Regions from separate parts of the Homo sapiens genome. Here region 2 is linked to region 1. Evidence: fine-mapped expression QTL. A gene starts in region 1. The other region holds a variant in brackets. All regions are shown on one strand. Distances are from middle to middle. Region 1 holds the start of DUSP5 (dual specificity phosphatase 5). Region 2 has its middle 6.2 kb from the start of SMC3.

Region 1 (5,374 bases):
CTACACCGGGTGCCATGCCACCCTTCTGCTTTCTGGGCACCTTCCTTGGTGTGACCAACTCTAGCTTATTAATATGAATAAACTTCACCCACTCCTCCTTTTCCTGCTACCCTCACCCCAGACCTGCTCCTGTAGAGTCCCTATCTAAAGGTTAAAAACTATGGTGTTGGCCAGGGGTAGTGGCTCATGGGTCATACCTGTAATCCCAGCACTTTGGGAGGCCAAGGTGGGCGGAGCACAAGGTCAGGAGTTCGAGACCAGCCTGATCAACATGGTGAAACCCCGTCTCTACTAAAAATACAAAAATTAGCTGGGCGTAGTGGTGTGTGCCTGCAATCCCAGCTACTCAGGAGGTTGAGGCAGAAGAATTGCTTGAACCTGGGAGCCGAGATCACGCCACTGCACTCCCGCCTGGGCGACAGAGCGAGACTCTGTCCTAAAAAAAGAAAAAGAAAAGAAAAATGCTAACCGGGTGTGGTGGCTCAATCCCAGCACTTTAGGAGGCTGAGGTGGGAGGATTACTTGAGGCCAGGAGTTTGAGCCCACCCTGGCCGACATAGTGAGAACAAGCTTTTTTTTTTTGAGACCGAGTTTCGCTTTTGTTGCCCAGGCTGGAGTGCAATGGCGCGATCTCGGCTCACTGCAACCTCCGCCTCCCAGGTTCAAGCGATTCTCCTGCCTCAGCCTCCCAAGTAGCTGAGATTATAGGCATGCGCCACCATGCTCGGCTAATTTTTTTGTATTGTTAGTAGAGACGGGGTTTCTCCATGTTGGTCAGGCTGGTCTCGAACTCCCGACCTCAGGTGATCCGCCTGCCTCCGCCTCCCAAAGTGCTAGGATTACAGGCGTGAGCCACCGCGCCCGGCCCGAGAACCTATCTAAAAAAAAAAAATCCGGAAACAAAAAAATCTTTGGTGTCCCTCTCCAGTTCTCTCTCCCCATCTCACCCCTCCCAGCATCTCACTTCCTCAATGTGCTCCCATTCCTATGGCCTCCCCATAGCTGCTGTCACTGCCAAGTTCTGGCAAGTCCATATCAGCTCATGTCTAGATTACCCATGAAATCCTCCCATCCATCCCCCAGACTCCGGACCCCACCACCACTCTCAAATAAAGCACCGATCCCGCACAGAGCCGCCTCAGCGATGTTCCCAAATGCTATCCGGATCTTGTCACTGAGTAAGATCCCTCGTTGGGGACTGCCCGGCCAAAGACTAAGACCCAAATGACTCAAAACAGCACAAGGCCCTCTGTTGCCTGACCCTGCTTAATCTGCTAATAAATACCAGAAGGGCCTTAGTCTCCCACATACCTCCAGTACGCACCATGCTGGGGGGGTTGCGTTTTTTGTTTTCTTTACCCCAAGCAGTTTCCTCTGCCTGGAATCTCCCCTCCTGCTTCGCAGCCTGGCTTACAATTCATTCCTCGGAGTTGGCCTCAGCTCTCCTCTCCTCGGGAGGCCTTCTCCAGCCCACGCCCCACCCTGCCACACCCCTACTGGGCGCTCTTCCCCACGGACTACAGGCCTTCCCCTTCCCTCTGGGCTGGGGGCAGCTGGGGCTGAGTATAAGTCTTACTCACGTTGGTGCCGCCAGCCCCAAAACAAAGCCTGGCCCACGTGGGTGCTCCGCGTATGTGTGTGGCTCTAGGCGGAGATGCCGGGGGTGGAAAGAGCCGGTAACAGAAACAGAACGTGCTAGAGGAAGAGCAGCCTGCAGGGAAGGCTGGCACAGATAACCACAAAAAGAAAGAAGGCCCCCGCATCACGTCTTCACCAAGACCCCACTGGCAAGGCGAGGACAGCGCCTTTGGGTGGATGCATCTGTGACCCAGAGGCAATGCTGGCTGTCCTGGTGTCTGATTTGATTGCATCTGATTTCAAAATTTGATCTCTGCTTCCTTCTGAAAACCTCATTCCCTTATGTCAGTTGTCAACAAGCCCTTGTCTAGTGCGGGCAGACTGTTTTCCATCAAGCAGTCCCAGCCAGGCTAACAATAAAATGGTTGGCAGTGAGCTTGGGGGCAGAAACCTGTTTCCATCCATGTGTCCCCGCAGCTAGCAAAGCCCTGGCACACGGCTGACCCTCAATAAATGCTTGCTGAATGGGTGAATTGTGTCTGCTTCCCCAGGAATAGGGGTGGGAGGCCTGAAGCCCCTGGGGACCGGTGGGGGCAGACAGCCTGAGATTAAACTTGATCCATAGATAATCCCCCAAATCCAGAAGCCACCTGGACAACAGTTGGCTGAACTGAGCTCCATCGTGGGATACATGCTGATGGTACTGCTGAGTTCACCAAGGGTCTCCCCGGGACCAGAAAACAGCTCCTCAAAATACAACTTATTATTCTAATCATTATTGGAGAGTGACAGAGAAAAGAGCGTCAATCCTTTGAGGGCAGAATCCATTTAGGAAGATTAAATGGCTATTCTCACCGCCGACCCCCAACCCCCGTTTTTACTTTTACAAACTTTATTATGAAAAATATCAAACATACAGAAAAGTGGAGAAAACAGTATAACGAATCCGGCCACCCATCACCCAGCCTCAGCGATGACCAACCCGCGCCTGACCTCTCCAGTCATCTATACCCCACCCCTCGAGGCAAATCTCCGACGTCCTCTCCTTACACGCGCAGACCTCGGTAGCGACGGGAATCCGTTCCGGACTCCTCTGGGGCCCTGGCCGGCTCCCTCGGCCCTGCTCAGCGCGGCGCGGGCGGGTTCTCAGCCCACGTCCGTGAAGCTGAAGGCCGGATCGTGCGGCGCCGCCCCGCCCCCCACGGCGCTTCCTCCTCGGTCCGCACCGCGAGGGTCACCGCGGCCCCGGAGCGCCTGGGACACTCGACCGGCAGCCGCGGGTGATGCGCGAGTGAGTCCCTCAGCGAAGCGCGGAAGAGAGAACGAAGAGGCGCCTTCCACTTCCTCTCGCTCTAACGCCGGCACCCGCCCCGCGCGTCCCTCGCCCCCGCTGCCCCGCCCCCTGCAGGGCGTGGCCACGGCCCGAGGGGCGGGGAAACACCCATATTTGGCCTTATATGGGCAGCCGCGTCACGGACGGCACTCATTCACATAAAACGCTGCGCGGCCGGCGGAATCCCCGGCTTCTAGGGCGGCGAGCGGCCGGGCTGGCTATCGAGCGAGCGGGGCGGGAACGCGGAGTTGCGCCGCCGCTCGGGCGCCGGGCTCCGTCGCGGCCGCAGCCCCGCGGGTCGCCCTCCCGTGCCTCGCCCGCGGACACCCTGGCCGTGGACACCCTGGCCGTGGGCACCCGCGGGGCGCGCGGCGCGGGGCCGCTGGCCGGCGGCGGCGGCGGCATGAAGGTCACGTCGCTCGACGGGCGCCAGCTGCGCAAGATGCTCCGCAAGGAGGCGGCGGCGCGCTGCGTGGTGCTCGACTGCCGGCCCTATCTGGCCTTCGCTGCCTCGAACGTGCGCGGCTCGCTCAACGTCAACCTCAACTCGGTGGTGCTGCGGCGGGCCCGGGGCGGCGCGGTGTCGGCGCGCTACGTGCTGCCCGACGAGGCGGCGCGCGCGCGGCTCCTGCAGGAGGGCGGCGGCGGCGTCGCGGCCGTGGTGGTGCTGGACCAGGGCAGCCGCCACTGGCAGAAGCTGCGAGAGGAGAGCGCCGCGCGTGTCGTCCTCACCTCGCTACTCGCTTGCCTACCCGCCGGCCCGCGGGTCTACTTCCTCAAAGGTGAGCGCTCGGGGTCCCTGCCACGCTCGCCCCTCCGGCGCCCCCGGGTCCCCTCCCTGCGCCGGGGCGCCCTCCTACACCCTGGGACCGGGAGAGTCACCACCTGCAGGAGTCTGCACCCTGTGGCTTGTTGTGCGCTTGGGAGGGCACTGCAAATGTCAGCACTCAGAGCTCCCCCTCTTCCCCACCCGCGTTCCTCGAAAGCGCCCGGCAGCGGGTCTGCCCGGTGGTCTGGGTGGAGTTGGTTATGCTGCGGGGGCTGCTGCTGTTTAGCAGTTTGGGGGCCGTCGGCTCGTGCCGGGCACGAGCCCCCTTTCCAGACGCGAGCTTCGCCGCTGTCGCTGGGGTCAGGGCTCGGGGCCTTCCTGATAGACTGATCTGGCGGGATCAGCAGGTCGCGATCCACTCTCCCTTGGTGTGGCGCCGTGGTGCCCCCCTTCCTCCCGCCTAGCCAGCTGTGGTCTTCACCGACCCCCTTGCCTTTTTGACCTGGCGAGTCCCTTCCCTTTCCATTTCATTTTATTGCTTTTTATTGTTTCCCTCCGGCCTCTTCTCCCCTCCTAGGTCTTTTCTCTAGCTCAGTTTGGAGCTCACATCCTTTCCACCCTTTTCACCTCCTCCTTCCTCCGCCCCAGGATTATCCCTGGGACCCATCCTGAGCTGAGCCTACAGCCAGCCAGCCACGAAATAGAGGTGCGCGGGGGCAGGGTGGTATGGAGATTCTGCGGCCTTTGATTTGACACCTCCCGGAGCTACCGCCACAGGCCTGCCCATTTCACCTGCCGGGAAGATAACTTTGGCTTCTGGTGGTGGGTGGGTGATTGACTCTCAAAATCCAAAGCATTGGTTTTTTCTGGGTTACTTCCTATGACTGCTCCTGCTTTGTGTTTGAGTCCTTTGTAACCTCAAATGACACCCGGGGAGACCTGACCCACATGTAGAGATGAGGGTTTAGCCCCAGCAGGGCCCCAAGGCCGTGCCAGCCCTGGCGCGGACACCTTGGGATGTAACAGTGTTGGGGATCAGAGCTCGGTGCAGAGAGCCGGCGCCGAGTTAGGAGCCTGTTTTAAAGCCATGCAACTTGAGTTTCACACAGTCCGGGCCAGGAAGATTCTGGAGACAGTTCCCCTCTCTGCTAGCACCTCCTGCTGACTGGTCCCCTGTTGATTTCCTGTTGGAGAGTTAACAGAGGTAGATGGTAATCGTCCTTCTTCTAACAGCCTATCCCCCAGGGGATAGAGGGTTGGCCCTCTGGCTCTGCAGAGGTTTCAGCGTGCCTCCTGATTTCTTTCTCTTCCTAATATGGTTTTTATCTCCTGTGGTTTGGAGAAGTTTCTGCCTCAGTAGTATGAAAGAGGTTCCAGGAGACCCTCCCTGGTCCCACCTCTCCTCCCCATGCTTCTCTAAGCTGGCCCTGCTGACAGTTTAGAAGTTGTCGCCACAAAGTAGGCAGCTCTATAGACTCACATCTCAGGAAAACTGGGTTAAAATGTTTTTTAAAAGAAGGTAACATATACACAGGTAAAAATTTGAACAGCATGAAGGCCCTGTGATGAGAAGCGGGTCTTCTGCATATCTTAGAACCCAGTTCCACTCCCCAGAGACAGTCGTCAACTATTTTTTGTTTACCTTTAGATAGTTTTTCATAAGTATCTTAGAAATAGATTGATTTTGTATAGTC
Region 2 (5,374 bases), 64 kb after region 1:
TTTTTTTTGTAGATGGAGTGTCTGTCGCTGAGGCTGGAGTGCAGCGATGTGATCTTAGCTCACTGCAACATCTGCCTCCCTGGTTCAAGTGATTTTCCTGATTCAGCCTCCTGAGTAGCTGGGATTACAGGTGCACACCACCACGCCTGCCTAATTTTTGTATTTTTAGTAGAGACAGGGTTTCTACTTGAACTCCTGACCTCCTGATCCGCCTGCCTCGGCCTCCCAAAGTGCTGGGATTACAGGCATGAGCCACAGCACCTGGCCTTAGATAGGATTTTTAACACACACCACCGGCTCCTACTCACTTCAGTGCCTTCAGGTGAGTGGTTCTCCTCTGCTGAAATACCTTCATCCTTCCTCTTCGTGAACCCAAATCCACCTCAGTCTGCAGACACCTTCCAAGTCACTTTCCTACCTGACCCCACTTCACCCCACCAGGACTGTGACTCAACCACGCTGACCAAGAGTCTACGATGGGGCCAGTCATTGTTTCTAGGGTCTTCTACCTTCCTCATCTCATTTCAACCCACAGAAAACATGTGAGGCAGATTTTTTTTCCCCCATTTTAGAGCTGATATAACCCAGGCTCAGGAAAGTTGAGAACTCCAGCTTCTTGACTCTCCAGGTTTTGTGCTCTTTTCTTTTCCCCATAACTCAAGGTGTTTTTTCCCTCATCAATGTCTTTTCCTTTATAAACATTCTAGTATTTCTGTGTACCATTCAGAAGAACTGCAAGAATTTTAGATCCAGGGTTAGGTGAGTCTCATGTAACAGTCTGTGGGAGGTTGGAAATGGAATAATTTCTACTTCAGTTATGCTGGATATTAAAATAAAGGTTGCCAAAAACATATTTCATTGCAAGCATCCAAGTTACTGGATGTCCAGAAATGAGAGGTATAGGGGCCAAGGCTCTGGCCCCCCTGGAGGTTGGAAAATCACTGACACGAGGCAGATTAATAAGAGAAAAGGCATACAAATTCATTTAACATGCACATGCTCAGGGAGAATCACAGAGTAACTGCCCATCCCCTAAAAGGTTTCAGAAGCTCCTCCAAAATTCTTAACTGAGTTTTGAGAAATGCATAAATCGTGGAATCCAAATCTCTATAAAGATACAGAACATTATCATCAGCTCTCAGAAAATTCCCTATGTTCCTTCCTGGTTCTCTCCAACTCTCCCTGAAGCTATCACTTTTCTGATTTTTTTTAACCTATATGCCCTCATTGTCAGACAGAGTTGATTTTTTTCCACCATAGATGCTTTTCACCTGTTCAAGAACTTCATATACATAGAATTACACAGTGTGTATTCATCAGGGGAAAGCTGTTTTCACTCAGTAGAATACATATATTTTTTCCTTTTTGTGGAGAATGGGGTCTTGCAATGTTGCCCAGGCTGGTGTCAAACTTCTGGGCTCAAGCGTTCCTTACACCTCTCCATCCCTAAGTGTTCGGATTACAGGCATGAGTTACCGCCCCCGGCCACACTCAATATAATATTTTGGAGATTCAGCCACGTCACGGCATGTGTCTGTAGTTCACGTCTCTTTTTTTTTTTTTTTTTCTTTTTTGAGATGGAGTCTTGCTCTTGTTGCCTAGGCTGGAGTGCAGTGGCACGATCTCGGCTCACTGCAACCTCTGCCTCCCGGGCTCAAGCGATTCTCCTGCCTCAGCCTCCTGAGTAGCTGGGACTACAGGTGTGCACCAGCATGCCCAGCTAATTTTTATATTTTTAGTAGAGATGGGTATTCACCATGTTGGCCAGGATGGTCTCGATCTCTTGACCTCGTGATCCACCCACCTTGGCCTCCCAAAGTGCTGGGATTACAGGCATGAGCCACTATGCCTGGCCAAACCTCCCTTTTCCTAGTAACTTGTTTTTTGCATTTCATTGCTTTCTCCCAAAAATACTTATACTAGATTTAGGGATTTTGTATTAAATATCTTTTAAATTATAAAAGATAATTTAAACCAGAAAATGTATCAGCTTACGTTACTGTTAAATAATGTAGTTTTGTGTTTAACTTTCTAGTGATACAGTTACTACTGAGTGAAAAATTGGGAATCTGGAACCTGGCATATTTGAATCTATGCCAGAATTTGGATTTCTGCATTAATCTAAATAGCTGAAGCTTTGTGTAAAGACGATCTAAACCTGAGATTTCAATAGCACATTTGAAATTATGATGTATTTCAATTATATACAGCACTGTTATATTTTATGAAATAGTTCAAGAATGACTTAGATAATCTACACATTATCATCTGTACATGGTCTAAGTATCGGTATGGTTCAAAGATTCACTGTTGAAATATTTTCCTAGGTTTTTCCAGCTTTATTAAGATATATTTCACATACAATAAAATTTACCCATTTAAAATATGGAGTTGTTATTTTCACTATATTCAAGAAGTCATGCAACCATCATTACAATATAATTTTAGGATATTTTCAACACTCCCTTTCCTCCCCTAAAAAACAAACCTGTACTCCATTTTCAAACCTTCCCTTCCAATCCCCAGCCCCAGGCAGCCACTGAACTGTTTTCTGTCTCTGTGGATTTTCCTATTCTGGAAAGTGCCTAAATGTTTTCCAAAGTGGCTGCATCATCTTACAATCCCACCAGCAACATACGAGGCTTTCAATTTCTCCATATCCCAGCCAACACCTGTTATTGTCTGCCTTTTTATTTTAGCCATCCTAGTGGGTATGAAGTGGTATCTGACTGTGGTTTTGATTGACATTCCTCTGATGACTAATGATGTCGAGCATCTTTTCACACGTTTATTGGCCATTTGTTTATCTTCTTTGGAGAAATGTGTATTCAAATCTTTTGCCCATTTTTAAAGTGGGTTGTTTGTCTTTTATTGTTGAGTTGTGAGAGTTCTTTATATATTTTGGATATATATATACACACACACACACACACACACACACACACACACACACACACGTAAATTGTCAGGTATACAATTTGCAAATATTTTCTCCCAGTCTATATCTTTTCACTTCTGTTAGTGAACAACAGTTTTGAGGAAGTACAATTAATCTTTGTGTGTGTTACTTTGCTTTGGCAATGCATTACAGAAACCACTGCCAACACAAGGTCACAACGATTTACTCCTATGTTTCCATCTGGGGGTCTTGTAGTTTTAGCTCCTAGGTTTGCTAAATAAAATTTATAGAAAG[T/C]CATTGGTTTTCATGGAGCTCCTGCACTAGACCCAACAGACCAAACCAAAATGGATTTACTCATATTGAAGTTCCACAACACCATGCCAAAACTAAGTTGTTTATCTGAACTTTCAAGAAATCAAGAGAGAGAGAAAATAGCCAAATTCCCAAATAGGCCTGTTTTAGCCAGCATGATGAGGAAGCTTCCTCTGCTTTAACCTTTACAAGGAGAGCAACTTTGAAACAGCTGTGTTTTGTTTTCTGTCTGCTTTCCTCAGCCCTTTTCTATCTAGAAAGCCATGATCTTCTGCTCAACTCACCAGAATGTGCATTCTTTTTCATAGAATGAGGTGTTGCTTGATTCTAGAATCACAAGTAAAGCCAATTAAGATCTTTAAACTAAATTCATTATAATTTTGTCTTAGGACGTGTTTAAGTCTATAACCCATAGGGGTTTGTGGCTATGGTTCATAGACCATGTTGTTCTAGGAGTAAGATAAGTTGGCAGCCAGTGACGGTGTGTACATCTTCACTTACATACCAAATTAGATTAGGCTTGAGCGAGCACAAGCTGATGTCAGTCCCTGCAATGGAAAGTCTCAACCCCTCATCCAGTTTATGTACGGGAGGCAGATCTCACACCACAGCCCATCAACTGAAGGGGAAGCTGAGTCCCAAGGAAGGTGTATTTTCTCCTTGGGTATATTCAGTATCATTTCTTTCAATCTGACCCTAAAACTTAACAGAGTAACTGAACCCTAGGAAAAGGGGAACACCCAGATCTTTTGAGTGCTGTTGGACATAGGATCTGAGCTGACACTGAGCTCAAACATGTTTATGGCTCCCCTGATCCAGTGGAGGTGTACAAAGGCCAGGTGATACATGAAGTCCTGGCTCAAGTCTGTTTCACATTCGTTGCACTAGGTCCATAAACCCATCCTGCGGCAATTTCCCTGACCAATGAGCACACAGTCAAAATGGATTTTTTTCTCTTTTTTGAGATGGAGTCTCACTCTGTCACCCAGGCTGAAGTGCAGTGGTGTGATCTTAACTCACTGCAACCTCCGCCTCCTAGATTCAAGCAATTCTCCTGCCTCAGTCTCCCTAGTAGCTGGGATTACAGTTGCAGGCCACCATGCCTGGGTAATTTTTGTATTTTTAGCAGAGATGGGGTTTTGCCATGTTGGCTAGGCTGGTCTCAAACTCCATTTGGGTTATATAAGCCCCAAATTGTAACTGCCCTTTTGAGTCACATTTCTTTGTGAACTCCCACATGTACGTATGTGATTAAAATCTGCTTTTTCTTTTGCTAGTGTGTCATCCAGGCTGGAGTGCAGTGGCACAGTCATGATTCACTGCAGCCTTGAACGCCTAGGTTCAAGCCGTCCTCCCACCTCAGCCTCCGGAGTAGCTGGGACTACAGGCGATCGCCGCCAAGCCTTAAGCTCCTGTCCTCTTATGTTCATGGATTCCCCCCACTCCACACCTCACCCATAAACATAAAAGGGCAGAGGAAAAGTTTCTTTCTCCTCAACGCTATTAGGACACATTCATGCTAGAGGTAATCAGTAAATATCTGTTCAATGAATGAATGAATAATGGGGGGTGAGGTGGTCCCAGAGTGTTTGGTCAGTTTTCTCCTGGCATTTTGATCTTTCAGTTTAGCTCTTTGCTGTCTTTTCCCAGGGATTTGCTGACTACAAGTTTGGCTATGAACTAATAACAAAAATAGCTAACACTATGTCTTGTGCCAGTTATTTTAAATAAATCATCCTAATTTACCTGCAAGGAAATTTCCATAGATATCATTAAAATCTTTACTTATAGATGAGGAAACAGGCTTCAGGAGGTTAATCTTCCCCAGGTCATACATCAGCAAGTGATAGAGCCAGGATGTGACCCGGCTCTCCCAAAGTCTGACCACTGACTGTTGGGGCAAATGTCTATCTGCATCTTTGCTGCCTGGAAAGGCAGAGAATATTCCCATTTTATCTACAGAAAGTCACATGGTAAAATGACATGTCCCAACTCATGGAATTTGTCAAATGGAGTCAGCATAAGACCCTTGGGTTTCCAACCCAATGCAAAATAAGTACCCTTGCTCCTCACAGCATCAGTGAGAAAAATCTAAGACAGACCATACACATGATAGCACTTTGAAGCTGGGTGAGGAGCTACACAAATATACGGGATTATGAT

The links. PIP is the estimated chance that this variant, and not a neighbour inherited with it, causes the effect. A credible set is the group of variants that fine-mapping cannot tell apart.
Region 2: its variant is the best candidate, but not a certain one, in a credible set for the expression of DUSP5 in whole blood (INTERVAL, PIP 0.71).

Annotation. Positions count from the first base shown.
Region 1 is chr10:110,494,808-110,500,181 of GRCh38, forward strand. It overlaps DUSP5 (dual specificity phosphatase 5), which reads left to right and starts at 3,100. Exons shown (of 4, transcript NM_004419.4): 1 at 3,100-3,693. The coding sequence starts at 3,315. DUSP5-DT (DUSP5 divergent transcript) reads right to left here and starts at 1,675. Exons shown (of 2, transcript NR_187547.1): 1 at 1,581-1,675. RefSeq lists an enhancer at 1,622-2,145 and silencers at 2,627-3,156, 3,167-3,306, 3,377-3,436, 3,557-3,826.
Region 2 is chr10:110,558,789-110,564,162 of GRCh38, forward strand. No RefSeq gene overlaps it. Among named protein-coding and RNA genes, the nearest start is that of SMC3, 6.2 kb to the right of the region's middle. The variant T/C (reference allele first, on the strand shown) is at 3,194.